Linked DNA regions of Homo sapiens: region 1 is linked to region 2. Evidence: fine-mapped expression QTL. Tissue or cell type: whole blood. Region 2 holds a variant in brackets; the other region holds the start of a gene. All regions are shown on one strand. Distances are between the middles of the regions.

Region 1 (13,849 bases), 48 kb before region 2:
AGTTTGAAAAAAGCTCTTCTCCTTGATTGATGTCCCTAAGTGCGACAAGAACAACACATCGAAGTGGGCTGAAAACAAAAAGATATACAAAAGGTAGAGCATTAACAAATATAAGCTCATATTTTTAATATAACCAAGATGGCTTTTATAGAGGTAACTTTACTCAGGTTCCTTCCATTTTAGTTTATGCATTTGATTTCCATGAGGAAATAGTTCTTATTCCTGATGCAGGTATTCTAAAGAGTATATCTATATCATTTAAAAAATCACAAATCAATGTTTATACAACTGACTACTTCTTCTGAAAACATTGTTTCTAAGTTTAGGCCCCCAAAACTAGTATCACAAAAAGGATTTTAAAATGACATTATAGTTTTTCTTGCATTCATTTGTATCTTATATCCTGAAAAATGAAAACATTACTTAAAATTAGTTGGAGTTTTAAAAAAATGCTTTTTTCTGGACATCATAAAATATTGTTTGTTTTTTTTGAGATGGAATCTCACTCTGTCACCCAGGCTGGTGTGCAGTGGTGTGACCTTGGCTCACTGCAACCTCTGCCTCCCGGGTTCAAGCGATTCTCCTGCCTCAGCCTCCTGAGTAGCTGGGATTACAGGTGCGTGCCACCACGCCTGACTAATTTTTGTATTTTTAGTAGAGATGAGGTTTCACCATGTTGGTCAGGCTGTTCTCAAACTCCTGACCTTGTGATCCGCCCGCCTCGGCCTCCCAAAGTGCTGGGATTACAGGCATGAGCCACCGCACCCAGCCTAGATATTGTTACATATATACATTCAAAGTTCTAATAACATCATGCCCCGGAGTATATGGCTAAGAAAAGCTAATAGTTAAACACACAAACATACACATGCAGAGAAGCAAAAGTTATCAAGTTTTTGGTTTTTGTTTTTTTCCTGTTTTGGGACAGGATCTGGCTCTGTCACCCAGGCTGCAGTGCAGTGGTGCCATCTCAGCTCAATGCAACATACACCTCCCAAGTCAAGGATCCTCCCACCTCAGCTTCCCAAGTAGCTGGGACTACAGGTACACACCACCACACCCAGCTAATTTTTGTATTTTTTGTAGAGAAGGGGTTTTGTCATGTTGTCTGGGCTGGTTTCGAATTCCTGTGCTCAAGCAATCCACCCACCTTGGCCTCCCAAAGTGCTGAGATTACAGGCTTGAGGTACCGTGTCTGGCCTCAAGTTTTAAGTATAAATAATAGTTCATGTTTTAAATGTCATTCATCTTAGAAGGACAATTTAATAGGTCCTATATAAAATAAAGTTTGCTAGCAACTCAACAAAATAATACAAAGATTGTATCTTCCTACAGCACTGTTAAGAAAGAACTCTTAGCTCTCCAGAATTACCTATATTTTAAAATTGTTATTTGAATATTCTCAGTAGACTTTCCACTGAATGAACAGGAAATAAATGCTATGTTAAAATATGTGTCTTCTGAATACAGTCCTTTTTTATTTAGTTTCATTATTAAGAACCTAATAGTGAAATTGGCAAAGGAATCATAGTGTAATTTGGCCTCTTTCTTCAATTGGATGCTTTCTTATAAGGTAGAGAACATGATATTATAAATGATTAAAGTAAAGATATATTTGAAGATTTTGTAGGTAGGAAAAACAACAGAATTATTTGAAAAAACTTTAAGGTGGATACTTATGAAGTATTGCCATAGAATAAAAATGGGTAAAAATAAACAGAATGAGCTAGTTTAAAGGAAAATTTTAAATTTCAAATAAGCCTACATTAACACGTTAAGGTGTGAACATAAAAATCTGAGTTATAATTTTTCACTAAAAAAAAAATTTTACCCCAAATTCTACATAGCTTTTTCTTCTATATTTTTTTAAGTACAGCATAAGCAGAAGATATGAAATGCTCTTTTAGCAAACGAACCTTTGTTTGTCATAGCTGTAGGCAATGTTTGGAAGATACTGCTTCAGTTCTATAGGGAAAACTGCAGGCACATCAAATTCCTGATAACAGACATTAGCTGCTCTGTCTAGGAACAAGCACATCATTTTTAGAAAAAGAGCCATTATACAAGGTCATGGAAAACAGAATTGAATTATGACACTCAATGTCTGTTTTTCTAAATTATCAAAACATGATCAAAATAATTACTACTATGTTCCAGGTACTGTCAGAGTTTATTTACGTATATATATTTGCAGATATATATGGTAAATCATAAATATATAAAATAAAATATTCAAAAAGACATATATAAAACATGTTTTATTACTTTTTGCATAAACAACATATATAATAACATATGTTTAGATAATATCTACCAACATACATAATAAACATATATGTATGTTTTATTGTTTACTTTTTATATATCAGGAAATAGAGGCTCAGAAATGTTAAAGGTTAAATACTAATAAAAGAGTCAGGCTTGGACTTCGTTTCTCACTAACGCCAAAGCCCATGTTAAATGTATTCAAACAATCAAACTTTTACCTATGGGAAAGTCAACTCCTAAAGAAGATATAGATAGGGACTCACAAACTTAGCAACAGAAAGCAGATACTAGTCTAGCCATTAATCTATAAGGCTATATTGAAGCACTGACATAATAATTTCTATTTTTAAAATGCTAAAATAATAATGATCAAAGGGGAGTTATCAATTGCCTATATTCACTGCAAAATCAGAAGAAAAATAGTAAATTAAACAATTCTAAATAATGTATATCAAGATTTCCCCTAATTCTCTCTAATATCATCCCCCAAAAGTGAGAGTTGCTTAAGGACTTGACTAGCTTATTATATGTTATACTCAACTGCCCTTGGCACTCAGTCATATGACAAAGGAGTAGAATTAGCCATTGATATATCTCATCTCACAGCCCCATGATGCCTTCTTACCATTGGAACAATTGTTGACATACTGTCCCACAGCCAGAGGGTTATGAATTTCTGACGTTAGCCATGTACTATCACTCATTTTTAAAGGGCCGAGTCGATCCCTCCCATTGCAAGATCTGAAACAAGTGAAAGCATTAGCTAATGGATCTGTATCTTAAAATAGAATCCTAAAATACAAAACCCTAGAATTACACCAGTGCATTTTTTCTTAAAAAAAAAAAAAAAAGACTTTAGTATAATCAGTAGGGCAACTGAGTTGTTACACAGCAGCTATCTAAACAGAATTTTATTCAAAGTATAAATGCTGGCCAGGCGCAGTGGCTCACGCCTGTAATCCCAATACTTTGGGAGGCTGAGGCAGGCAGATCACTTGAGGTCTAGAGTTCGAGACCAGCCTGGCCAACATGGTGAAACCCCAACTCTACTAAAAATACAAAAATTATCTGGGCCTGGTGGTGCACACCTGTAATCCCAGCTACTTGGGAGGCTGAGGCAGGAAAATCACTTGAACCCGGGAGGCAGAGGTTGCAGTGAGCAGAGACCGCACTGTTGCACTCCAGCCTGGGCGACAGAGCAAGACTCTGTCTCAAAAAAAAAAAAAAGTAAAAAAAATAATAAAATGAAGCATAAATGCTGAGCTGGGTGTGGTGGCTCAAGCCTGTAATCCCAGCACTTTGGAAGGCCGAGATGGGAGGGTCGCTTGAGGCCAGGAGTTCAAAACCAGCCTGGACAACATAGCAAGACCCCATCTCTTTATATAAAAAATAAATAAAGTACAAATGCTATTAGTCATAATCATTGTGGTAAGTGCGGTTCTGTCTCCTATAATTAAATTTGAACATGGGCATCACTTACCTGTACACAACTTTTGATATCCCTTTGTCATTCCCATCAATGAGTACCCCATCCAGGCATCTAAAAATAAACGGATTTCCAATGGACTGGAAAAAGATCGGCTCATACTTCTGATATACTGTACCTATTACACAACAAGACAAAGAAATATGATAACAACATGAAAAATCATAAACACTGCGATAAGAACCCTTCTTTGGAATATAATCACATTCTCTTTAGTTACTTTCTCCCTCTTAAAGCGTGAACGCCCAATAGCAGATGGAGCACAGAACCAACTCATCCACACAGCAAAACAGAATATGGCTATCTTGGTTAATGATAATATGAACATCACATTTTAGGCTCAGTTTTACAAAGTCATATATATACATATACACATTTATATGTATATGTGTATATATATACACACACACATATATATTTAAGTAGAATGTGATTTAACATCTAAAGAGTTTGAAGAAATTTATTTTGCTAATAATTAAATAATGTAGACACATATGGGAATAGATGAGTCTGACATTAAGGCTGTTTCTCCTTTCACTGGCAAAAGACGAAATGAGAAAATATTTACCGAGTGCTTCCTATGTTCCAGGCATGTTAATCTATTTATTAAACTTCTTTTAGTATTAATTTATTTATTCTATTTAGTCTTTACAAAATTAGATTACTCGTACAGCAGGAAACTGAAACTCCCTTGTTTGGGGATGTAAAATTAGAAAACAGGAGAATGAATTTTTAAAAACCTGGGTCTATCTGACTCAAATATTCACACACACACTTTCCACTATACCAAATAATATAATGTTAGTTTAACACATAACGTAGTCTATTTAGCATTCTAGTTAATGATCTTGTGCCAAGAAATTGCCTTACTTTCCAAGTGTAGAAAGGGCAGGAAGGTCTTCATTCGGTGACTTATGGGTTTAAATGTTGTCTTTTATGTTTTGATCCGTACGCTTTTTTTTTTTCTTTTTTTTGAGATGGAGCCTAGCACTGTCACCCAGGCTGGAGCGCAATGGCACAATCTCGGCTCACTGCAACCTCCGCCTCCCGGGTTCACGCCATTCTCCTGCCTCAACCTCCTGAATAGCTGGGATTACAGGTGCACACCACCACACCTGGCTAATTTCTTGTATTTTCAGTAGAGACAGGGTTTCACTATGTTGGCCAGACTGGTCTCAAACCCCTCGCGATCTGCCCGCCTCGGCCTCCCAAAGTGCTGGGATTACCGGCGTGAGCCTATCCATACCATTTTTATCCTTAGCTATCAATTAAACCAAACTGACATGTTTCTCTAGTGCTTTTTAAGTAATTTGTCAAAGTGGGTCATACTATGTTCTAAATTTAAACGTTGACAGGAAAGCTTTCCTTGAAAGAAAAAGTGCATTTATCCCAACAAATACTCCAGGATACTTTCTAACACAAAACAATTTACAAACAGTTAATTTCCGAATTAGAATTGCAAAAATCTATGGAAACTCGAGTTTCCAATTTAATCCCTTACTCTAAGGATTGCAAGGCTGGGTATGTTACTGAACTTATGTTTATCAATACGTAAGAAGCTTGGCAAAGTATAATATTAATCGTGCTGTTACCAGGATACATAGATACGACTGCGCCTTTTGGTACCAATCCTTTAGTAACGAAGACACCTTTTCCAGCAGAAATCAATGAGCTAGTTGCTTGGGCAACACTGAAACCCAAAGTCTTGTAAAGAATTTCTTCTGGTTTAAAGGTACTTTGCTGTTGATGTCTGTTTTCAAGCAGTTTCACCCCTTGATGTTCAACTGCCAGTAGGTCTTGATATTTTGATTTAACAGATTCTGGAAGCATAGACAAGATTTCTGATTGTTTATTGAAATCATTTAAGAATAGAGCCTGGAAAACTTTCAGTAATGTTCCTAGGACATCTTCATCTGAGATAACTTTGTCTTTGGATTCCTCTGGAACATATCGGAGGGTCCTGAAAATGGGAAAAGTTTCTATTCACTACCCTTCAACTGATAAAAGCCAAACTTACCTGCATAACTTCTGGGTTCCTGGCCTTAAGGAACTATAAGCTTATTCTCATGTGTGTGGAGGGCTGGAAACTAAGTTCAGAAAAGAATTGTTTGAGGGAGTTCTAGTTAGCTAACTCCCAACACTTCCCACCCAAGTAGTCAGTACTTATGAAAGGCCCATTCTATACCACATGCTGTGGGGTCCTTACATTATTCCATTTTTGCAGACAAGGAAAGCAAAATTGTTAGGGAACTTGTTCAAGGTCCCAAAGCCAGTAAGTGGGAGAGCCAGAGGCAGAAACGAAGTTCAGCTCTTTCCCGTACTACACCCAACAGCCAAGCTGAATGTCATCACAATGAGAATGAATGACCTCACATTCAATGGCTTTTTAAAAATGGCCTTGTAGTTTCAAAGACAAATTCAACATCGTATACTTTGTGACACTCCCTCCAGGACGACTAACGTCTTCAATGACTGCACCTCTTATTTCCATAATCATTATCTTTTTGTACTAACTGCATTATTTTTACTTGAACAAAAAGGTTGTAATTCCCGCCTCACGGTTCCGAGTCATGATACAACTGATCTCCTGTTTCCCTAGCATGCAACCTTCCGGAAACCGCTTTGTTTCCCTATTTGTCGGACACTGACTTCAGGGAGGCCCGGTCGGCCTCTTTGGTGAGCACGGTGTTGAGCTGATCACTGGTGCGCCCTTAATAACGCCGGCGGGACTCACCCCAATCCGAAACCCACCATCCCGACGTGCTTTTGAGTGGCGTTCTGCCCGTTCTTAACGCGCGAGCTACTGCACGCTATTCTCACAGCCGGGATGGGCTTCTTTAACCACGTGAAGTACTTGTATGAACTATGAAAATAAACCCTGGCTTGGCTTTTCTGAGGAAGTTCAAGCACCTAATTAACCCCTGGTGGAGAAAAAGCCACGCACTCTCACGCGGTAAGGGCAGTCTTTTTAAAAAGTTTCCATTTTTGCCCAGATACAAGCTCCCCAGTCAGTGCCGAACGCAACAGGGAAGAACAGGCGACACATCCGGCTGGCGAGCTCGGCCTCGCGGGCCCGGCAGCGCAGCGGACACTGGGAAAGAGGCCATAGGCCCCGCCCACCTGAAGCCACCGCCCACTTCAGGCTTCCAGCGGGCCTCGGACTCCACCAACCTCGGCCCCGCCCGCCTCTGGCCCGCGTTCCTTAAACCCCTCCGAGGCCTCAGTCCCCGCCCACCCGGCCCGCCCACCTCAGTCCCTGCCCACCCGGGCCCGCCCATCTCAGGCCGGCAGTCAGCCTCAGGCTCTCCGCTTTGCGTCCCGCCGCCGTGGTGGCGTCTGGGAACCGAAGGCAGGTGCCCCTCGTTCTGCCGTCCCGCCCTCTCACCTCGGGTTGTGGCTTAGGTTCAGTGCGATCCAGGGAACGAAGCGGTACTTGTAACGGCGCCATCGCTGCCACAGGCCCCGCAGCAGACGGCCAGGCATGGCTGCCCCGCGGGGCCGTGACCAGGACGGCGCGGGGAAGGCGGATCGAGGCCTCGGGCCCGCCCCGGCCCGGGAGGAGAGGGGGCCGCGCTCGGCCGCCTTCCCCTGGCTCCGCTCTCAGTGTTCCTGGCACCGCCTGACTTCTGTTGCTCTGGGGCTTCGTCCTTCCCCTTTCCTGACCTCACCTCTCTGAATGAGAGGCGCGTAGAGCTGGAAGGAGGTCCCCTTGACCACTTTTTCTTTCTCCGGTCGCTCGGGTGCTTCCGTGGGCGCACACAAGCGCTAGCCCTGGTTGCGGGCGAAGGGTCACCGGGCCTCAGGGGCGAACCCGCCCCCGAGACCGCGTCCCAGGAGCGGACCGCCTAGTTTCTCTGTCACGGCTGTCTGGCCTGCCCCTTTGTCCCGGCCGCGCTCTGTGTTCCATCCTCCGTCCACTTGAGCTCTGCCTCTTCCTCGACGTTCTCTCCCCTTCTCTCCGTGGCCCCAGAGCAGCCCGACTTCGGGAACCCGAGTTTCAGTCCTCCCCAGACAGCAGCCCTTCTTCTGCGTGAACCCGTGTTCCCAAAGTTACCAGTTTGGGCGTTTTGCGAATATTTACACGTAAAAAAACAAAGTGTCATGATTCCCTGTTTTCACTCGTTTTTCTCTTCATTGACCCAACCATTCAAAGGCAAAACTACATGGACAAATGTTTCTGAAAAACAGCTTTGTTGAGGAATGGTTGGGATACAATAAACTGCACATATTTAAAGTGAACAATTTGATAGGTTTTCGACACCACAGCCAAGATAGTAATCCAGCCCCTCCCCCAGTCCCCAAGCAACCACTGAGGTGCTTTTGTCCTTTTAATATGGTCTTCGCTTCAATTTGGAAACGTTTTGTCTAGAAGTTCTGCATCTGTGTTCGTGAGAGATATTGTTTCGTAGTTTTCTTGTAGTGTCTTAATCTGGCTTTGGTATTTAGGCTAATGTTGACTTCATAGGATGAGGTGGGAAGTAGTCCCCCATAGGTGAAATTTAAAAGGAACTTTACGACCGCTCCTCCCCAACACCCAGATGCATGCACACGCACACACATATTTAGAACAGGTTTGGACAAAGTTCAGTTTTAAGGGGGGCAAACTACAGGAATCCCTTAACCATATTCAAATCACCAAGTGTTTATTGACAGATAAATACGTTGGTATCATTTCCTCTATTCTTTGCCTGAGAGTGAGGTTGGATCCTAAACTATTGAAATTGAACGGCTCAGATCTAATAAAAACTCAGCCAAGGCCGGGCGCAGTGGCTCACGCCTGTAATCCCAGCACTTTGGGAGGCCGAGGCGGGTGGATCCCCTGAGGTCAGGAGTTCGGGACCAATCTGGCCAACATGGCGAAACCCCGTCTTTACTAAAAAAGAACAAATACAAAAATTAGCCGAGCGTTGGTGGCACGTGCCTGTAGTCCCAGCTACTCAGGAGGCTGAGGCAGAAGAATCGCTTGAACCTGAGAGACGGAGGTTGCAGGGAGCCGAGATCCGCCACTGCACTCCAGCCTGGGTGACAGAGTGAGATCCCGTCTCAAAAAAAAAAAAAATTCAGCCAATCGCCAGTAGCTGCGGGACTAATTTGTTCTATTCTGAAAGAAATAAAGAGAAAGAGTATCTACCAATGTCTCTATTTCGTTCATATCATATAGAATGTTAGCAAACTCTAGAGGCTTTCTCTCAGACTCTGTGTTTGTTTGATAATTTGGCATAATCTAGATTTACCTGACTTGCTAAATGGAGTCAATTCAGTTCCAGGATGTATTAATAAGTGGCATACAAGAAAGTTTCTTTATAGTCTCCAAACTTAACAAAGAACCCAAAAGAACTAGTTTAATCTTTACCTATGGTAATGTACTTGTCTAAAAAAAGAAAAAAATCAGTTTTTGTATATTTTTACAGTTTTTTTATATTTATGGTATTAAAATTAAATTTTGGTTAGCTAAGTAATTAATGAAAACCTTCTTTTTCTAGTTTCTTAAAGTAGGTTATTAGGTCACTAATTTTAATCTTTTCTTCTTTTCTAATGGAAGCATCTAAAGTTATACAAATAGAAACATGGTAGCTAAAGCTCAAGTCACCCTTAACCAAACACCGTACCTTGTACTTCCACCAATCCTGGTACTTGGCGCTTCTCAGAAGTTATCAGACGGGTGTGTTTTCTGCCAGTTTTATTTTTATGTATTTACATACCCGCGTATGTTTTTATAGAAAATACATAGTATTTTGTGTGAGTATTGTTAAAATATTATAAGGATCCACAACTTATTTGATTTCCTCAAAAATACATCTTGAAGATCTACCCATATTGGTTTAAGTCTACTGCATTCTTCTATTTTTGAGGTTTTGCCTTCAAGTTTAATATTTACTGTAGTTTTCTAGTAGGTATGTATACTTTATGAAGTTTTTTAAAGTTCTATTTTTGACTTTCCAAAAATTTTTATTGTTTTAAATTTTAAATGAATGATAAATATCAAATGCTTTTCTCTGCTTATTGAGATGACCATATAGTTTCTATTCATTTATTCATGTAGTGAATGATGACACATTGTCAAATGTTGACCGTCCTTGGATTTCTGACATAACTACTCAGTTATGAGTACCTCTTTGGTCAGATCCTGTAGGTTTTAATATATGCTATTGTCATCCCACATTTATTTTGAAGTATGTTTTAAAATTTTTTAGATAGAATTTGCCTGTGAAAACATCTGGGCTTGTAATTTTCTTTGATAATAAATTCAACTTATTTTAAAGATATAGGGCTATTCATAATGTCCGTTTCATCTTGTGTTGTTTGGTAAGTTATATTTTTATGGAATTTGTTCATTTTGTCTAAGTTGCCAAATATCTTGGTATAAAGTTGTTTATAAATACTGTCTTACTAACCTTTTAATGTCTGTATGATCTGTTGTAATAGCCCATTTTTGTTCCTGATTTTGGTGATTTGTGTTCTCTTCTTCATCATTGTAATTGAGGGTTTGTCAATCTTTTCAAAGAAACAGCTTTTGGCTTTATTACTTTTCCCTGCTTATTTTTTATTTTGTTGACCTCTGTTCTTATCTTTTTTCTCTCTTTTTTTATTTTTAGTGATGGGGTCTCACTGTGTTGCCTGAACTGGTCCCCAAGTGACCCAACTGCCTATGCCTTCCAAATAATTGGAATTACAGGCATAAGTCACCGTGACCAGTCATATTCTTATCTTTATTATTTTATGTTTTCTACTTAAACATAAAGTAGTTTATTTTTCTCTTCTTTTTCTAGTTTCTTAGAATAGAATATTAGGTCACTGATTTTGGTCTTTCCTTCATTTCTATAGAAGCATCTAAAGTTATAACTATCCTTCCAAACATTACTGTAGCCAAATCTCAGGAATTTTGATATGTTGTATTTTCATTATCATTCAGTACAAAATATTTTTAAAATTTCTTTGTTATTTATGTTTTTAATCCATGAAATATTTAGAAATGTGTTTTTAATTTCCAAATATTTGGGATTTCTAGATATCTTATTGTAACTGGTGTTTAGTTTAATTCTGTTGTGTCAGAAAACATGAATGATTTCAATTCTTTTAAATTTATTGACTTGTTTTGTGTCCCAGCATGCACTCTATCTTGGTGAATATACCGTGTTCAGTTGAAAGGAGTGTATATTCTGTAGTTGTTGGGTTTAGGGTTCTATAAATATTAAGTAGGTCATTGGTTCATAGTGTCTTTTAAATCATCTGTCTTTATTGATTTACATAACTTTTAAATACAGATGAATGAAGAATGACAATTTGACAGACAGTTTTATAATATATCATAGATAGCAAGCAAAAGATTGGCCACGATGGGCATGGAGATATGCTGCTATCCAAAATTACCCTCTTCTTCTGACTCTTTTTCCCACTTCCTGTTGTTTCCAGTTTCCCCAAATACTCTACCCAATTGAATATAAGAATGTATGTGCTGTGTTTTCCATTTAAAACCCATTTATGCTATAAATCACAAAACTACTGTGTAGGAAAAATGTTCTTTTTTGAGACAGGGTATAGCTCACTGCAGCCTCCAAACTCTTGGGTTCAAGCAATCCTCCCTCCTTATTCTCCCCAAGTAGCTGGGATTACAGGCATGCACCACCATGCCTGGCTAATTTTTTAATTTTTAATTTTGTAGAGATGGGGTCTCACTATGTTGCCCAGGCTTGTCTTGAACTCCTGAGCTCAATCGGTCCTCCTGCCTTGGCCTCCCAAAGTGCTGAGATTACAGACGTGAGGCACTGCACCTGGCTGGTAAAATCATCTTTAACATCAGTGTCCTAAATATTATAAATAAGGCATGTATGCCTGGACAGATTGTAACTTCCAGAGTTCAAAATGAGATTAACTTGATTTTTAAATAATTTATTGAACTTCTATTATGTCCCGAGCTCTAGTGCAGGAGACAGATACTAAGTAAACACATAAATAATGTCAGACAGTGATAAATGCAATAAAGAAAACAAGGCAGGATAATGAGAAGAGAGTGGGCTGGATATCTTATGTAGCCTGTCCAGATCCACTGTCCACACCCTGGGGGATTGACTGGCTTGCACATCAACAAGGTCCCTCATCTTCCTGCTTCCAAGTGGATTCAACCAGTGGAGAGCACTGGCAGGAAACTGCAAGAAGAGAGGAGAGTGAGGTGCTGGTCTCTGTGTACTGGCTGTATTCCAACCTAAGGTCCTCTCCATGTAGTCTTATGTGTTTCCGGGTTTCATTCAAGCCTATGGATGGTAACAGCACTCTATTATTGCCAACTCCACAGTTCTGTGTACTATCCTTGTGGTTTCCCTTCATTCTGTCCATGCTGTTACACAATTATTTTCAAATGTCTTAATTTGTGTGTGTCATCTGTTTCCTGCTGGGACCCCACTCTCTTTATGTGGGTCACATGGTGTGGGATTAGGGGTATCAATTTTCGATAGGGTGATGACATGAATGGCTGAGACCTGAATAAGAAGGCAACGAACTTGAAAATATCCACGGGGAGATTCTCCCAATGGGAAATGCAAAGGCACTGAGGTAGTGATATGGTTTGGATGTTTTTATCCCTCCAAATCTCATGTTAAAATGTGACCTCCAGTGTTGGAGATGTGCCTAGTGGGAGGTGTTTGGGTCATGAGGGCAGATCCCTCACCTATGGCCTGGTGCTGTCCTCACCTCAATGAGTGAGTTCTTGCTGTGTGAGTTCATGCGAGAGCTGGTTGTTGAAAAGAGCCTGGCATCTCCTCTCTCCCTTGCTCCCTCTCTCTGTATGTGATACACCAGCTCCCCCTTTGCCTTCGGCTATGATTGGAAGCTTCCTGAGGGCTTACCAGGAGCAGATGCTCCAGCGCCACACTTCTCATACAGTTGGCAGAACTGTGAGGCAAAATAAACCTCTTTTCTTTATAAATTATTCAGTCTCAGGTGTTCCTTATTGCAATGCAAATGGACAAGCATGGGTGGGGAGGAGCTTCACATGTTCAAGCAGGGAAAATAAGGTTATGGAACAGGGTAAGTAAGAAAAAGTGAAAGATGAAGTCAGGGAGAAAGAGAAGATGCCAAGTCCTGTAGGTCCTGGTGAGGAGTTGGGATTCTTAGTGTAATGGGAAGCCACTGGAGGGTTTTAAGCAGGAGGGTAATAGGATCTGATTCATGTTTTAAAAAGATCACTTTGGATATTATGTGGTGAAAAGGTGGGCAATCACCACACCGGTAAGGCCAATTAGGAGGTGAATACAGTAGTTTAGGCAGAGATGATGGTAGCTTAGACTAGAATGGTAACTGTGGAGATGGAGAGGGTGGATGGATTAGGATTCTATTTTGGAGGAACTCACAGGACTTGCCAATGGATTCGATATGGGAAGGTGAAGTTTTGAAATGCCTCCAAGAAATGTCAAGTATCTAGTTGAATATTGTCACATCTGGAGCTCCGAAGCCATAGCTGGTGATAGAGTCTTTAGCCAGAGCCCTGGATGAGATCACCTAGGAAGAAAAGGGGGATGGCAAAGAACATAGATTGAGCAGTGACCATGAAGTCACCTGTCAATAAATGCAGAACCCTCATAACTTGGTCAAAAGCAGTTTTGGTGATAGGTTTGAGTGTGTTTGAGTGCGTTGAGAAGCAAATGTGAGGTGAGGAATGGGAAACAAGTGTGTGTGTCTCTTTCAGTAAATTTTATGGAAAGAGAAGAAGAGAAATGGAGCCAAAGGCAGAGAATAATTCAGTAAGATAAAAGATCTCGTAGCATATTTGTGTGTTGATGGGAATGACCCAACACAGAGAAGGAAAATGTGGTGTGTGTGTGTGTGTGTTTATTGGGTGTCAGGGGGACAGAGGAAGTAGCAGGCACAACTTTGATTTCACAATTCTGTGCTGGAAGAGAGATAATAGTTAGAGATAGTGGATATTCTGTAGGCTATTTGAATAGCTATGTAGTCTAATGTGGGTAACATAACTGGCAAATATTTATTCATTGAAAACTGTATGCCTAGGTACAACTTTAAAAGATTACAGTCTACTTGGGAAAACATATAATTTCTAAAAATTAAATATTAATTACCATAGAATTTCAGTGTGAGCTA
Region 2 (16,335 bases):
AGTCTGTCCCTCCTGATGTACCTGCCCATCTCTTTTCCTAATTATGGAGCTACTTAGGATGGGGAAAAACTGTCAAGACTATGCATGCATTAGTAACAAAGAATTAACAGCAGCATTACAGAAATGATGTATACAACTACCTATAATAAAAATATTCATGGCAAAAATAATCCAAGGTCAACTAACCCTTCAAATAATTATACCAAAATTAAGCTTATTCATAGAGGAAAATAAAGTTTCACAATTTAGTCAAATTATAAGTGCAACTTATTAAATACTTCTCTGACAACAAAAAGAATACCATTCCGGGGTATTTCCTGCCCATCTTTTTTCCAAGTACATATTTTGTAAGCATTGTTCAGATCATTTATGTATATATATGCACTATTTCATATTTTAAAAATTTTTATTATAAAATTGCACTTAAACTCTTCATATACATAATTCTTTTTTTTGTTGTGGCAACATATGCAAAACATAAAATTTACCATCTTAACCATTTTTAAGTGTACACGTGAGTGGTATTAAATGCCTTCACGCTGTGCAACCATCACCACTATGTGTCTCCAGTATCCTTTTCATCTTGTAAAACTGAAACCCTATACCCATTAAACACCATTTTCCATGATCTCCTTCCTCCAGCCTCTGGCAACCACCATTCTACATTTTTTTGAGACAGGTTCTTGCTCTGTCACCCAGACTGTAGTACAGCGGCACAAGTATAGCTCACTGCAGCCTTGAACTTCTGGGCTCAAGAGATCCTCCTGCCTCAGCCTCCTGAGTAGCTGGGACCACAGGGGCATGCCACCCATGCCTGGCTAATTTTTCTTTTCTTTCTTTTCTCTTTTTTTTTTTTGGTACAGACAGGGTCACACTATGTTGCCCAGGCTGGTCAACATATCCTCCCACCTAGGCTCATTCTACTTTCTGTCTCTATGGTTTTGACTAAGTATCTCATGTAAGTGCAATTATACAATATTTGTCTTTTTGTGACTGGCTTATTTTGCTTAGAATAATGTCCTAAAGGTTCATCCATGTTGTAGCACACTTCCTTCCTTTGTAAAGCTGAGTAATATTCCACTATGTGTATATACCACATTTTATCCATTCATTTATTGATGGACACCTGGGTTGCTTCCACCACATAATTTTTAATGCCATCATAATTTTCCACTGACTAGATAGATCCTGTTTTAAGTATCCATTAATGTTGGACATATAAGCTGTTTCCATATTTTTACATTTTAAGAAACCATTACGGCCGGGCGCGGTGGCTCACGCCTGTAATCCCAGCACTTTGGGAGGCTGAGACGGGCAGATCATGAGGTCAGGAGATCGAGACTATCCTGGTTAACATGGTGAAACCCTGTCACTACTAAAAATACAAAAAATTAGCTGGGCATGGTGGCAGGCGCCTGTAATCCCAGCTACTCGGGAGGCTGAGGCAGGAGAATGGCATGAACCCGGGAGGCAGAGCTTGCAGTGAGCCAAGATCACGCCACTGCACTCCAGCCTGGGTGACAGAGAGAGACTCCGTCTAAAAAAAGAGAAAAGAAAGAAAGAAACCATTACAAACATCTTTGTACTCATTTTTTTTTGACGTTTCAGATTTTTTTTAGCATAGTTTTTTCTGAAGCAAAATTACAAGTATAGAGCAGGGAGTAATGAACTTATAAGGAAAACAAATCAGCCTGTGGACTACTTGTGTAAATACAGTTTTACTGAACATAGCCATCCCGTTCATTTATATATCGTCTTTGGCTATTTTCAGGATATAAGGGCAGAGCTGAGTAGTTTTAAAAGAGACCAAATGGACCACAAAATATTTAAAGTTTAAAAAAAGTTACCCATAATAGCACCTCCTATTAATAACCAGTGAAGTTTTTATTCCTTCCGATTTTTACATACTTGTAATACCTTTTCTATATAAAACTGGGTTCATGCATAATATATTATTATAACCTAGATTTGGTTTTACTTATCGACATTTTCCCAGGCCATTCAACGTTCTCCAAAAGCATAATTTTAATGCCTACATGACATTTGTAACATGGGCATATGCTAATTTAATCATTCAATTGCTGTTGGATATTTAAACTGTTTCTACTTTTTCACCATAATACTATGAGAAACAGTCATATATGATATATGTGAGGCTTTTGCATTTCTCAGATTAAACTTTTACTTAAGAAGAACATTTACTGGATCAATGAATATAAATGTTTTTAAAAGCCATATTCCTTTTTTCTTCAAAAGGCTATACGGCTTTACATACGATCAAGCACATGCTTACAATAACTGAATTACATCATTTAAAAAGTCTTCATTATTTCGGTAAATAAAAACTGGTATCTTTTTTTAAAAAATGAACATTTCTTCGGTTATTAGGTTGACTGAACAGTTTTTGTGTTTCTTAGCCCCTTAAAATTCTTTTTTGGTGGATATTCTCTTTATGCCCTTCATTTTCAATTGAATTTTAAATTTGTTTATCCTAATTCTTTTATTATTGTTTTGGGCATAACATTTAAAATTGTATGTAATCAGACCTCCAGATAAATTTCCTCTGTATTTTCTTTTTATTGATCTTAGATATAAAAATAGTGGTTATACGAAACAAAAATCTATCTATGTATGTACAGTACAATCTCAGTAACCAAGATAACTTTTGTGATTCCCCCCATGGATATGCAAATCCAAATATATATATTTAACCTCAGAGAGAAACTTTCTATTTTGACTACTTGGTTTTAAGCATCTGTTATTTTTCTCCACAGTAAAAAGTTACAGAAATGTCACTCAAAAGGAAAAAGGAGCTGGGTGTGGTGGTTCACACTTGTAATCCCAGCACTTTGGGACGCTGAGGTGGGAGGAATGCTTGGGGCTAGGAGTTCAGGAGGCTGGAGAAATAAAGCTCATTTTTTTCATTTTATTTAGAAGAGATGAGGGGTAAAACAAAGATACCCAGGTTCTGGCTATACCTTTCCTCAAATGAGCTGCATAACCTCTTGGCTTCACTTATCGCTGTGTCACTGAGACATGCCAACTAGAAAATCTTCAATGTCTAAAAACTCGTAAAACTCTAGGATTCTAAAATTATTTCATTTAATCAAAATTAAGAAAATTCTTCAAACATTTACTTTTTCCACAGATGAAGAAAACCTCTCTTCTCTTCACTGCACCCTTGTTACGACCCTGTCACTTTTTCATTCTTCATGAATTTTGAGGTAGTTACAATACTTAACAGATTAATAGGATGAAGACAGGATTTAACCACTCAGAACAATGCTTCTCAAACTGGGCACTTCGGGAATAACATAGAAGGTGCCCTGGTAAGAGAAGCAGCACTCCTTTGTGGATTAATTTTTAAAAATCTAATTTTTACACTAAAACCAATAAAGCAATATACAGAACAGAAAGAAGATTCACATGAATGCTGTAGTTTTTAGCACAAAACGTCTATATACACACACACACTCACATGACCTTTAACATACATACATACATACAGACATACATACATACACACACCCACATATTTTTTAAGAGACAGGGTCTTGTTCTGTCACCTAGGCAGTGGTGCGATCATAGGTCACTGGAGACTTGAACTCCTGGGTTCAAGCGATCCTCCTGCCTTGGCCTCTCGAGTAACTGGGACTACAGGTATCACCACTCCCAGCTAATTATTTTACTTCTGTAGAGTTGGGGTATCCCTATGTTGCCCAGGCTGGTCTTGAACTCCTGGGCTCAAGCAATCCTTCTGCCTTAGTCTCCCAAGGTGCTGGGATTACAGGCACGAGCCACCATGCCCAGCGAACTTTTAGTATCTTCACCCTTGATTTTAACTTGAAAGCCAAGATTCAATAATTAAATCATTTTAGAGCAACTTAACAAGTAGATATAAAAAATTACCCCTAAAATTAAAAGTAACACTGGATTAATGTTTGAAATCCTTAAAAAGTACTAACCTGTTTTCTGAACTAGACGTAGAAGTACTAGATGATGACAATGTATGAGAATTTGACATGCGTGAAACAAACTTCTGGATGGTGTTACGAGATGGAGCTTTGATCCTTGAGCTACGCCTACTGTGATATTTCTGGAACAAACTCTCAACCTAACATTGGAAAAAGACAGTAACAATGATATTTGTGCCATAATTATACATATGAAGAGTTCTAGAGGCTGAATTATTTATCTTTAATTTGCATGTTTTTCATAAAGTTGATTTAAGAGCTTCAAAAATAAGAACACATTATAGTTTTTACTAAGGACAACATTCTTACAGCAGGTCAGTGTTTGTTTTTTTCAAGCTAGAAGAAAAAGTTTAGTAAATATCTCATGAGAACTATTTATAAGCATCAACTAATTCTTACATACCTTCACACCTTTAAAATGGTCACTGCCTAAATTTAGTGAAGGATAAATTTTAAGAATATATCCTAAGAATATGCTAACAATTTTACTCTAAGCATTTATTAAAAACTACCTCAAAATTCTTTAAAGTTTTTCTCCATAACATTGGGTCTGAAGGTTCTAGTTGAAACACCCGGAGCATCACAAATAGCAGATGAATACAGAATGTTCCACGTGCACAGCTGCAGTTCTAAAGAGTTAAAAAGAAAACCTATAGGTTAATACATCTGTGGTTCACAAGAACTTCTAAATTTATCACTTTTACAATATTTCCAACTTTTTATACTAAAGTTTCTATTAATTCATATTCTTCATTATCTTTGTATATAAGAAAAATCTACAGCTATTTCCATGATTTAATCTTTCATTTTCACTGAATTTATTAAATAGATCAAATTTCTATTCTATGGTATATTAAGATAGTAAAACCTCATAAATACATTAAAGAAAAATATTAGCCTAAAATACATTTTAAGTTTAACTTTGTTTACTATAGGGAATTAATTGATCTAAATTTAAGAACATTATAGTATATAAATTTGAGGTAGTACCATATACTACTACTAATAAAGTATAAAATGGTGACGAATCCTACCTGAGGCCCAATAAACACCCGGTATTTATTGTCTGGGCTGTCTCCTCCAATCAGGAAAGAGTTAGGCCCTATCTGCTGCAGTAAGTACAGTCTGGCCCGCATCACTTTGTTAACACGGCGGTTTGTTTCCTCAGGGCTATATGGTGAGAAGCCATCTGGTGAAGGGGCTCTTCGGGGTGGTGTGATTCTGCCACTCTGAAACTTCACAACATTTTTTTTTATTAGGTACGTTTCTCATTTCTTAATTAAGAAACTATTATCCGGTCAGGCATGGTGGCTCACGCCTGTAATCCCAGCACTTTGGGAGGCCGAGGAGGGCGGATCATGAGGTCAGGAGATCCAGACCATCCGGGTTAACATGGTGAAACCCATCTCTACTAAAAATACAAAAAATCAGCTGGGTGTGATGGCACATGCCTGTAATCCCAGCTACTCTGAGGCTGAGGCAGGAGAATCACTTGAACCTGGGATGGAGGTTGCAGTAAGCCGAGATTGTGCCACTGCACTCCAGCCTGGGCAACAGAGCGAGGCTCCATCTCAAAAAAAAAAAAAAAAAGAAACTATTATCCAAAGAAGATCATACAAGACAGTCATGTGGCAGATTATAGTCTGAAAAAATGTCAGATTTAAAATATTATGGAACAAAGGCTAAATGATTTTGTCTGACATACTCATCTCAGGTGAACTTTTAAAATCTCAGTCATCCCCATAAATGTTGATAAATATCTGGCTGAGAGAGACAACCATGTGGTAATTTTATAAATTATTCTATTAACATTTGAGTTCTTTGAAACATCTAATATAAACCAAAACAAAAAGCATAGAAAGTATATATCATAAGCAGGCAGAATGCTGTGTCTAGTAGTAAAAACTAAAAATCCAACTTCCTGGGATCTATTGAAGGCTTTATTAATCTTCTTTAACAGGAAATTTACAAACGCTGCCATGGAATGCCTCCCAACATACACTCTGCAGACTCTTCCTCAATAAAAACAAATTAGTGGAAGCTGACAAAAACGCTCCTAGGGTGAGGATAATATATAACACTCTCACTATACTAACTTTCCTAGAACTTGGTCTTTCCATCAATGTCCAGTGGAAATTCCAGTTTTTTGGATCCCTAATTAAATAGTTAAGGGTAATAAATGTTGGCAAGACCACAAAGCAATTAGAATTCTCATATAGTGCTGGCAGAATGTAAAATGTGCAGCTGGTTTGGAAAACAGTATAGCAGTTCCTCAAAATGTTAAACGTATTACCCAGCAATTCCATTCCTAGGTATAAACTCAAGAGAAATGAGAATATATGTCCACCTGAAAACTTGTACACAAATGTTCACAGTAGCATTATTCATAATAGCCACCAAACAGGAGCAGCTCAAATGTCCATCAACTAATAGATAAACAAAATGTGGTATATCCATACAATATTGCTCTGCAATTAAAAATGGAGTACTAACACATGCTATAGCATGGATGAACCTTGAAAATATGATACTAAGTGAAAGAAGCCAGTCATAAAAGATCACCTATTAAGTGATCCCATTTATATGAAATGTCCAGAATAGGCAAATTATATATATAGAGAAAATAGATTAGTGGTTGCCTAGGGTTGGGAGAGACTGTTGTTAAATGGAAAACTTTAGACAAAATAAATTTAACAGAGTTTATTTGAGCAAAGAATGATTCATGAACCAAGTGGTACTCAAAACCGCAAGTTCAGAGATCTCTGATCTAGCACCTTGAACAGCCAGCTTTTACAGGCTGAACACAAAGCAAAGCAAAGCAAAGGAATCAGCTGATTGGCTACAGCTAGGTGTTTGCCTTACTTGGGCATGGCATTATGCAAAGTCCCTAGTTATATAACAAATAGGCTGGCTGGCTGTTTGTGATTGGCTAAAGGTTGGTTTCATTTCCAGGTGTAGAAACAACCCCAGGCTACCTACTACCTATTTTGCTTTAATACTGCTAATAGGTCTAGGATATCTTATTGGGGTAATAAAGATGTTTAAAAACCGACCGTAATAATGGCTACACAACCCTGTGAATATACTATAAAACACTGAATTGTACAATCTAAACAGGTGAATTGTACAGTAGATGAATTACACATCAATAAAGCCATTATTTTTAAAAAAGCAGTTACTAAAAAGTAAAAACAAACAAAAAAAGCCAATTATGCATGCACACGTCATTTTGACCTGCTAGGTATCCAGCCTATGGATATGTTCACAGATACATGCTCACAGATGTACAAGATGACATACGTATAAAAATACTTTTGAAGCACTGTTTTCAGTAACAAAAGGTTAAAAAGATTATAAATGTTCATTAGTATATCATTCATTAAATAAACCATGATTTATCCAGCTAATGAAAGGCTATGTAACTGTTAAAAAGAATGAGGGGTAACTTTGTCTAGCATATATGCCCAAAGTGGGTTTTGGGGGTGGGGTGTGGGGAAGGAAGACAGTTCTGTTTATACTTGTTGTAAACTTTCATTTTGATGGCCCCCATGAACCATACCTCCCAGTATTTACATTCTTGTGTAGTTCCCTATCACATCAATTCTGGGTTTGGGCATGCAACTAGCTTTGGACAATAAGGCATTAGCAAACACAATGAAGTGGAGGCTTGAGAAGAGCCTGCATGTTGAGACTTGCCTCTCGAAACAATACTCTTTGCAACCCAGTCTTCGTGCTAGGAGGAAGAGATGCCAACAGCCCCCCAAGTGTTCCAGTATCCCAGCTGAAGCAATAGGCATGTGAGTGAAGAAGCAGTCTTGGACCTTTCATCTTCAGAGAATGTCACAAGGAACAGAGATAAGCCACCCCTGCTGAGCCCTGCCCAATCTGCAGATTCGTGAGCTAGTAACTGATTATTGTTTTAAGTTAACAAAAATTAATAGTTAATTTAAAGGTATTTTAACATAGAGCCAACAACTACTGTTGGGCATCAGGTTTTACTGTAAAATGTTTTTGCTTTAAATGTACTTTTTAACGAATTTATGTACCTTAATAACTCCAGATCTTAAAAAAAAACCCAAACTCCTCTTGTGGTCACTATCTCAACCATTTTTCCATTCAATCATTTGTTCTTCAAAGTTAGAAAGTGAGTCTTAACATGCATTTCCACTACTAGAAGTCTCTCTCTCACATGAATTTACCACCTATCTTTTTGCAAATTTCTTTGATGTTTAGCTTAATATACAAGACAGCTAAGATTCTCATAGCTGCTTCTGCATTCAATCTGCTGTGATATGATGTTTTGATTAAAGTATATGAAAGAAAGTTTGGCCTCATGCAGATACGTAGATGTAAAAGGAAGGAGTATTTTAATAGCCCCTTTTTTTTTTTTTTTTTTTTTTAGGAGTCTCACTCTGTCGCCCAGGCTGGAGAGCAGTGGCGTGATCTCGGCTCACTGCAACCTCTGCCTCCCGGGTTCAAGCCATTCTCTCTGCCTCAGCCTCCAAAGTAGCTGGGATTACAGGTGCCTGCCACCACGCCTGGCTAATTTTTGTATTTTTAGTAGAGACGGGGTTTCACCACGTTGGCCAGGCTGATCTTGAACTCCTGACCTCCAGTGATCCGCCCACCTTGGCCTCCCAAAGTGCTAGGATTATAGGTGTGAGCCACTGCCTGTTCAAATAATGATGAATATTCTTTGGTACTATACCAAAGCTCAAAAAATGGTTTCTTAAAGGCAGTTGTAATGTGGAATCTGAAACCACATCAACAAACTTTTCCTACTGGCACATTAAAAATCCAAATGGTGTATTTTACACTTTGAATGTATCTTTTACCTATGAATAATTTTGTTATTATCATACACTGATCACGTGGAAAATATTGGTTCCTTAAGTTACGCAGATCTTCCAAATGTTCACATATTTCATTATACAGCATGAAAATAATCACATTTGTTATCACCAATCTTATCAGAAAAGTCTAAGCACTGGGAGGCTGTCAAGCTCATAGTGGTGGATAGTAGCTTTCTAAAATTCTAATTTTTGTTTCGACATCTCAACTTTTAACACTAGTGAAAAAATACTTAAGTTGCTTTTCTTTTTTTCTTTTTTTTTTGAGATGGAGTTTCGCTGTTGTCGCCCAGGCTGGAGTGCAATGGTGTAATCTAGGCTCACTGCAACCTCTGCCTCCTGGGTTCAAGCGATTCTCCTGCCTCAGCCCCCCGAGTAGCTGGGATTACAGGCATCTGCCACCATGCCTGGCTAATTTCTGTATTTTTAGTAGAGATGAGGTTTCACCATGTTGGCCAAGCTGGTCTC[G/A]AACTCCTGACCTCAGGTGATCCGCCCACTTCGCCCTCCCAAAGTGGTGGGATTATAGATGTGAGCCACCGCTCCCAGCCTTAAGTTGCTTTCCTTGAAGTGACAGTCTCATTTAATTCACCTTAAGAAAAATGTCTTCCAAATACCCAAATCTAAATAATCATAGTTTGTTGGTCACTCATTTCATGTTCCATGAAAGAAATAACTAGTTCAGCTTGCAACTCTAACAACCGCACAAATACTTCTCCTTTAGAAACTACTGGATTTTGGTATGTAGAAGTGCTTTATGCATGCATCCCATTTCATCACACACAATATTACAAAGGCACGTATTTACTAAGAGTCAAGATTTAATAAAATTAATTTATATTTCCTTGTCAAAGGCATTATCAAGTGTAACTGGCATTTTTTTCTTTAATGGCTGATACATAGCAATAATGAATATAGTTTCTACAGTTGTAGCCTTAAATTGGGAAAAGGCACCAGTAGCTTTACCCACCACTGCAAATATCAATGCAGGGAAAGAGGCAAACAACATCCCAGTTTTATCACAAAATTAGTTTTGACCTAATAGACCCCAGAAAGGGTCTCAGGAACCACCCCCCCCATCCTCAGGGGTCTGCAGATCATATTTTGAAAACTGATGTTCTAACAGATGGCTGGCCAGTCTTTTCTTTGTTATAAATGAAGCTAAAAATTATAAAAACTAACATATTTGTTGTAACATTAACTTACAGGCACTGGGGAAACTCTTTTTCTCCTTACTCCTGGAGATTCTGATTTCACTGTGCGACCTGATGGGGAGTTGCCAGGAGAAGGACTGCGTCGGCCTTTGGAAGCTGGTGAAGCCGCACTTGCCTGGACCTCTCCTGGAGACTCAGCTGCTAAGTGATTCATTTCAGATCCATCTCCTTTAACTGGGATTGGTTTTACCACCTGAATCAAAGTATTCCAATATTTTGATTACTTAAAAATATAAAAGGTAAGTAAATGTAAATATCATAGACTAGGAAATACACTTAATGAGTTTTTGTTATGAAATATTATACCAGTATACCAGACAATATATCAACTTTTATTATTACTTTAAGCTATTAATGTAAAAGATTATTTTTACCTGCACAAATTTCAGTCATTTAGGATTTAACACTAGTTAAAACGCAACCTCCTCCCTTACAATTTTGTAATGCATACAAAACTGTAGAAATGGTATTATTTGTTATTATATACCCTAACTCATTTAACACTCAAAAGCAACAATCAAAGGTGATTAAACAAATGTGAAAAATAAGCACTCATAACTTCTACAGTCAACTTATTCAACTACTAGATCAAAGATCTAGGTACGTTTTTATTTGTTTTTACAAAATGTAGGACCTTGAAACAACACTGGGCATAATTTCAAATAGTTTGATCACTATGCAATCATTTTCCCTGCTTTGTGTGTGTGTTTCTTTACAATGTTATATTACAATAATAGGTTAGATGTGTATCTCAGAAAACCAAAAGAGACTAGAAGTTTAAAGATCAATTTCTCAAGCAGAAATGCAGTTTACAAGACCTGCCTTTTTTTTTTTTTTTTTTTAATTAAGGCTTTCAGACCTAATCTAGCCATGACCAAAGGCCAAACTCCACAGCTTTGTACAACTGAAGCTCAGCAGACCTTTCTGGACTTTCTCCCACTGCTCCTGTTCTATAGCCAGTTGCTGTGTTCACCAAACTTGCCTGACCCTTCCTCCTCCTGTGCTTTCACTCACTCTCCTCCTATTTTAATACTCATCTCCAGCCTGCAGCACCCCAGGCAGTACACCTTCACATGAGGAAAATTTACCCATCTTTCTACGCTGAGTTAAAATTCTTCCTTTTATGAAACTTCCCTGAAGTCTACCAGCAAGACATTCCTTCTCTTTCCTAAGTCCCTATTGCTCTTCTGCCCATCCCACACATTTGGCACCTAGTCACAAGTTGCTTTGTGATATTTCATGTATTACTCTATTTATTATGTATAAGTCTAATTTTCCCATTTGGAGATATTTACCCTTTATGTTTCAAGAATGATTTGACACAACTTACTTAAAGTATAAAAACAAACAAAATCAGACCTCCCAAGTAAACAGTAAACTTCCTAAGGATAATACGAAATCCGTAAATCATAAAATGTAGGGTGGCATAATTAAGCTTAAGGACTATGTGTTATGCATCTTATTCCACACATCTCCTCCCTCTTCACTCATGTCTTATATACAGACAAGGTACTTTGGTACTTGCTAGAAAGTGAACAGTATAAAAACCAAAATTTTGTTTTAGAGAACTGGATATTCTTAGTTCATGTATAATAAAGAACAAATAGCTGGCTCATTTTTAAAAAGTTGTGATTTATGCCCTACGGTATTCTCAAAAGATTTAGGCTGTTTGAACACCTCCATCTAAAGGAGCTCAGAAAGCAGCACATTCAAACTTCAGATGGCTCTGCTTGTTCAAAAGTTCTTTATATTGATTGAGTAGTAATATGCCCTTTTAACTGCCAACATTCTACAAGATGTTTCAATAGCACTTTCTCTTCTCTAAGATAAATCCTTAATTTCTTCATATTCACCTTCTGGCACGAATAGCTAAAATGGTGAGGGGTTCCCACCATACCACCTCACGTGAGTAATAAATGGAAGAAATGTAGAAACTTAGCTGTAAAGACAAGGACTCACGGGCCCATAATAACTTACCAAGTGCTGGTATGGAAAGGAACAATTAGATTTATTCTGTATAATTCCATCGGTTAGAATGAGAACCAGTGGGTAAAATATTCCTGACAGACTGCAGCTCAGTGATGAGGATATCGAAAGCCACAGGGATTATTGAGTTATTTAAGTCAGACACGAGTCAGTACTACACATCTAAGAGAGCTTTCTGAGGCAGTGAAAATGTGCTAAAACTGCACTGCCTAAAAGGTAGCCATTGGCCACATGTGGTTACTGAGCATTTGAAATGTAGTTGGTGAGACTGAGGAACTAAATTTTTACTTTTATTTACATCTAATTAATTTAAATGTAAACTTAAATAGGCATATGGGATGAATGTAGGGCAGACAATCACTTGGCAGGGGTGTATTTAGACCCTTGTCAAAGCTTAGATGAATTTTAAGTTGCCATATCTGTTTTAAAAGAACAAAATAAAAACTTGCTGAGAGAGATTAGTGCTAGGATACTGTAATACTTCTTCCTTTGTAAGAATGAAGACACACATTTCATGATGGTATTCTTATAAGAATATATATTCTTATACCTATAGCAAAGGACAGAGTATCCCTGCTTTTTAAAATCTAGGACTCTAGATTTTCTTTCATCAAACCCCACACATTTTTAATTTATCTTAATCCCCATAGGTCTATTAAACATTTTTTCATGTCAAATGAGGATAACATGCTGACACTGTAACAAAGTTGGAGAAACGCACATCTTATGCATGCATGTGAAAACCCAATCATTACACTTATGAATTACTGCAATTAAATGTTTTCTTTCCTAGAAGATTTCTGAAATTAAGATCCTTGGATCCTGTCTTAGAGATAAAACATCTAAAATAAACTGGAAAAATTCTTTTTAAAATTTACAAGTACAGTATAAAACTCCAATGAAAGGATTTTAGATACTGACATGAGAGGGCAGTCTTGGTTTAAGCATTTACCCCTCCACCAAACACAACAGTTAAGTTCCCAGAATAGTTTAAGTTGTTTAATGAGCACAGTTTTAATTATGGTTTCTTCCAAATGACCACAATATCAAGTAAAGAAAACTACTACATTTAAAATGAAGAAGAAAAGCTTACAAGAGGATCTATTTATGCTTACTTTTCCATTTCCTCCTATGCTTTCTTCCTTATAACTGGTAACCCATAGCCACTTACCACAGGCCCTCGCCTATTTCTCCTTTCCAACCATTCGTGCTTCCAGGCTGGCATACAGGTTGCCTTCAGTTTCTCCCTGATCATTCGTTCCTCTGGACGATCATCCATCTTGTGCAACCCTTTGAGAGTTTCTTTATTCTCCATCTCACGACTAAAATGCAGGCAGAAACAAATAAAATGAGAAATGTATATATGAAAAATAATTTCCAAGAACAAACAGAATGGATGGTTCTATTTTATACTTCCAACGGACATGTAATAAAAAAGATAACTGCTAAAAACCCCAAATGACTTAAAGCTTGAAAAGATTCTGAATTATATACTACTGACATATATCATGCAGACCTATGTTCCACTGTAGTTAACAAAATGAATCCCAAGACATTAAGCACTATATTAACAAATATATTCACTAAGACTGCATTGTTTTTAATTCTACCACCCAAATAACAAATATTTAGAAGGGTGTATTACTACACTTTTATCCCAGGATTTCCAATAAATTAAGTCAATACAGATAGAATCTGGTGGATATGCTGATTTATCTGAAATAAGCTCAATAAATATTTAATAAGTGAAGTGAAACTTAACTACATCATCTATGACCCCAAAACAATTTTTCATAGCCTACATGATTAAATTTTTATTTTCATAGAACAGTGACTTCATAACAAAGCACTTGGGGTACTCTATAAAGAATAAAAATTATCCAGTACAAACATTTGATCTTTACTCCATAAAATGGTGTGGATTTACCAGAATAAAACAATCTCTAAACTAAGAACGTTTGAGAATTAACTCTACAAAGCCTAACAGGCAAAGCATCAAGCTCACGAAAATCACTAATTTTAAAATATACCCATATCCACATGAGCATACATGCATACACGATATGCATAGATTTGAAAACCTGATTTATAAGGATGCAGTTAAAGCAACTGCACCTTGGGATTAGTAACAACTTTAAAAATACTAAGCTAATTTCAGTAACTATTTTGAAAAGTCTTTAAAGCTAGAGAACAGTTTTTCTACACTGATAGGAAAAGGAAATACTCAAGGAAATACCAAAAACAAGAACCTCAAGTTTACTACAAAGACAAATTCAAACTCCTCTAGGAATTTTCCAGCTAATCACAACTATGAAGTACGATCTTCAGAGAATCAGCCAAAGGAAGAAGAAACTACTTAAAAAAAAATATTCACTAGAAAGGAAACGGTTAACCCGTTTCACTGAAGCATCAAGACTGTGAGGAAAGTAGAAGGCAACATATTAAACATCTTTGTATCAGCAACTGGCCTAGACATTTTTAGAAATACAAAGAATACATAACATTTGGTTTGAAACTTGCAAATAGGCATTAAGACCACAGCGTAAAATATTTCCTTACACACACATACACACACAAATACTGTTATATAGAAGCAATATGAGACTTTCAAAAAGTATGAAAAAAGGAGGATTATCTAATTTACTTATATGTGCTTGGCTGCTTTTTATGCTGATTATAAAATATAAATATTAGGGGATGTGTAGAAGAAAGTAAGAGAGGGAGGGAGGAGAAAGAAGGAAAGAGGAAGGGGGGATGGAGAGAAGGGAAGAAGGCAGAGAAGAAAGGAGGAGGAGAAAAAGGAGGAGGGAGAGGAAGGCAGAGAAAGAGAGGTAGGGGTGAAGAACACAGGGGATAAAGTGTCTTCCAAAAAAGTCCATCCTGCTCAGTTGGTATTCCAGGAGGCTCAGCTTTGTAGGCAACTGAATTTATGTGGTGACTGCATAATAAAAATTCACTTCCAAGTCTTTAGTATTAAAAGCGCTTTCCCCCTCCAGTAACAATGTTGCAAGAGGTGGTTTGGTTCCCAGGCTAGTTCCAAAAAATAAGCCTCACAGTGGAACTGCAGTGCATTTTTATACCAGAAACTCCTGCACTCCTAGACCAAGGTGCTTGATAGTCTTTCCTCTGGTCCTAGCTATCTCTCTTCCCCCAAATCTGTTTCAGGAGTATCTCTTCTCTGCTATGGATTTTCAGTTTCTGTTCCTGGCCCTGAGTCAAACACACAAAGGATGTTCCTTGTCTAAACAAATCTTTCTGGATGGCATGGCCTCCTTAAAGTCTAATGTGTCTCTTTCCTTTCCACTTGTTTGAAAATACTGTCATCTTTTAGACCAATTTCTTTTATCATAAATAATAGGGATGAGCATTCTAGTAGCTGAACTTTTACACACATCTGAGATTCTTTTTTAAATTTCGTTTTACCTTATTTATGTTTAAGGACTATGAGATTATTTTTTTCTTTTTTCTTTCTTTTTTTTTTTTTTTTTTGAGATGGAGTTTAGCTCTTGTTGCCCAGACTGGAGTGCAATGGTGCAATAGGCTCACTGGCAACCTCCGCCTCCCAGGTTCAAGTGATTCTCCTGCCTCAGCCTTCCAAGTAGCTAGTATTACAGGCATGTGCCACCACGCCTGGCTAATTTTGTGTTTTTAGTAGAGATGAGGTTTCACCATGTTGGTCAGGCTGGTCTCGAACTCCTGACCTCAGGTGATCCACCCACCTCGGCCTCCCAAAGTGCTGGGATTACACCACATTTGGCCTAAATTATTTCTTTAGAATAAACACCTAGAAATGGAAATGCTGGGTTAAAAATGTACACAAATGAAGACTTTTGATAATATTGTCAAATAATCTTCTAAAAAATATGTCTTCCATTCACACGCCCATCCAGGTCAAGCTGCTCTTAAACCTGCTCTGAACTAGCAACAGGCTCCTAACGAGGCTTCTTTAACTTTGAATCTTACCCAGATTTCACAGTGCAGCCAGGGTTACTTCCTCCATTAAAATGCTCTAGTGGTTCCCCCCGGGCTTAGACTAAAATCCAAAATGTTTAGCCCAACCTAAGTGGCCCTGCACCTCGTGGTCTCACCTCAATTCCTGTCATCAGACCTGCAACCCCCCTTCTTCACTGCCTCAATAACCCCAAGATCTTTCCTACTCAGGGCTTCTGGACAGGCTGCTTCCTTCTCTGTCTACTTTTTACCTAATTTCTACCCACTCTCTAGATTTTCCTCAACTCCTCAGAGACTTTCCCAATTTCAATTAAGAACTCCCAGTTCCATTCTTTCACAGCACTTGTATTTTTCCTTTAACAT

Evidence for each region. PIP is the estimated chance that this variant, and not a neighbour inherited with it, causes the effect.
Region 1: SETD9 starts here. The variant in region 2 is fine-mapped to the expression of SETD9 in whole blood (INTERVAL, PIP 0.95).

What each region holds. Positions count from the first base shown.
Region 1 is chr5:56,903,034-56,916,882 of GRCh38, reverse strand. SETD9 (SET domain containing 9) reads right to left here and starts at 7,287. Exons shown (of 6, transcript NM_153706.4): 1 at 7,140-7,287; 2 at 5,347-5,714; 3 at 3,749-3,872; 4 at 2,894-3,009; 5 at 1,917-2,022; 6 at 1-68. The coding sequence starts at 7,237. RefSeq lists enhancers at 5,805-6,626, 6,722-6,771, 7,562-7,651 and silencers at 6,812-7,021, 7,202-7,411.
Region 2 is chr5:56,853,608-56,869,942 of GRCh38, reverse strand. MAP3K1 (mitogen-activated protein kinase kinase kinase 1) reads right to left here. Exons shown (of 20, transcript NM_005921.2): 2 at 13,193-13,343; 3 at 10,028-10,228; 4 at 5,009-5,209; 5 at 4,487-4,603; 6 at 3,966-4,114. It also overlaps the pseudogene LOC124901214. Among named protein-coding and RNA genes, the nearest start is that of MAP3K1, 46 kb to the right of the region's middle. The variant G/A (reference allele first, on the strand shown) is at 9,293.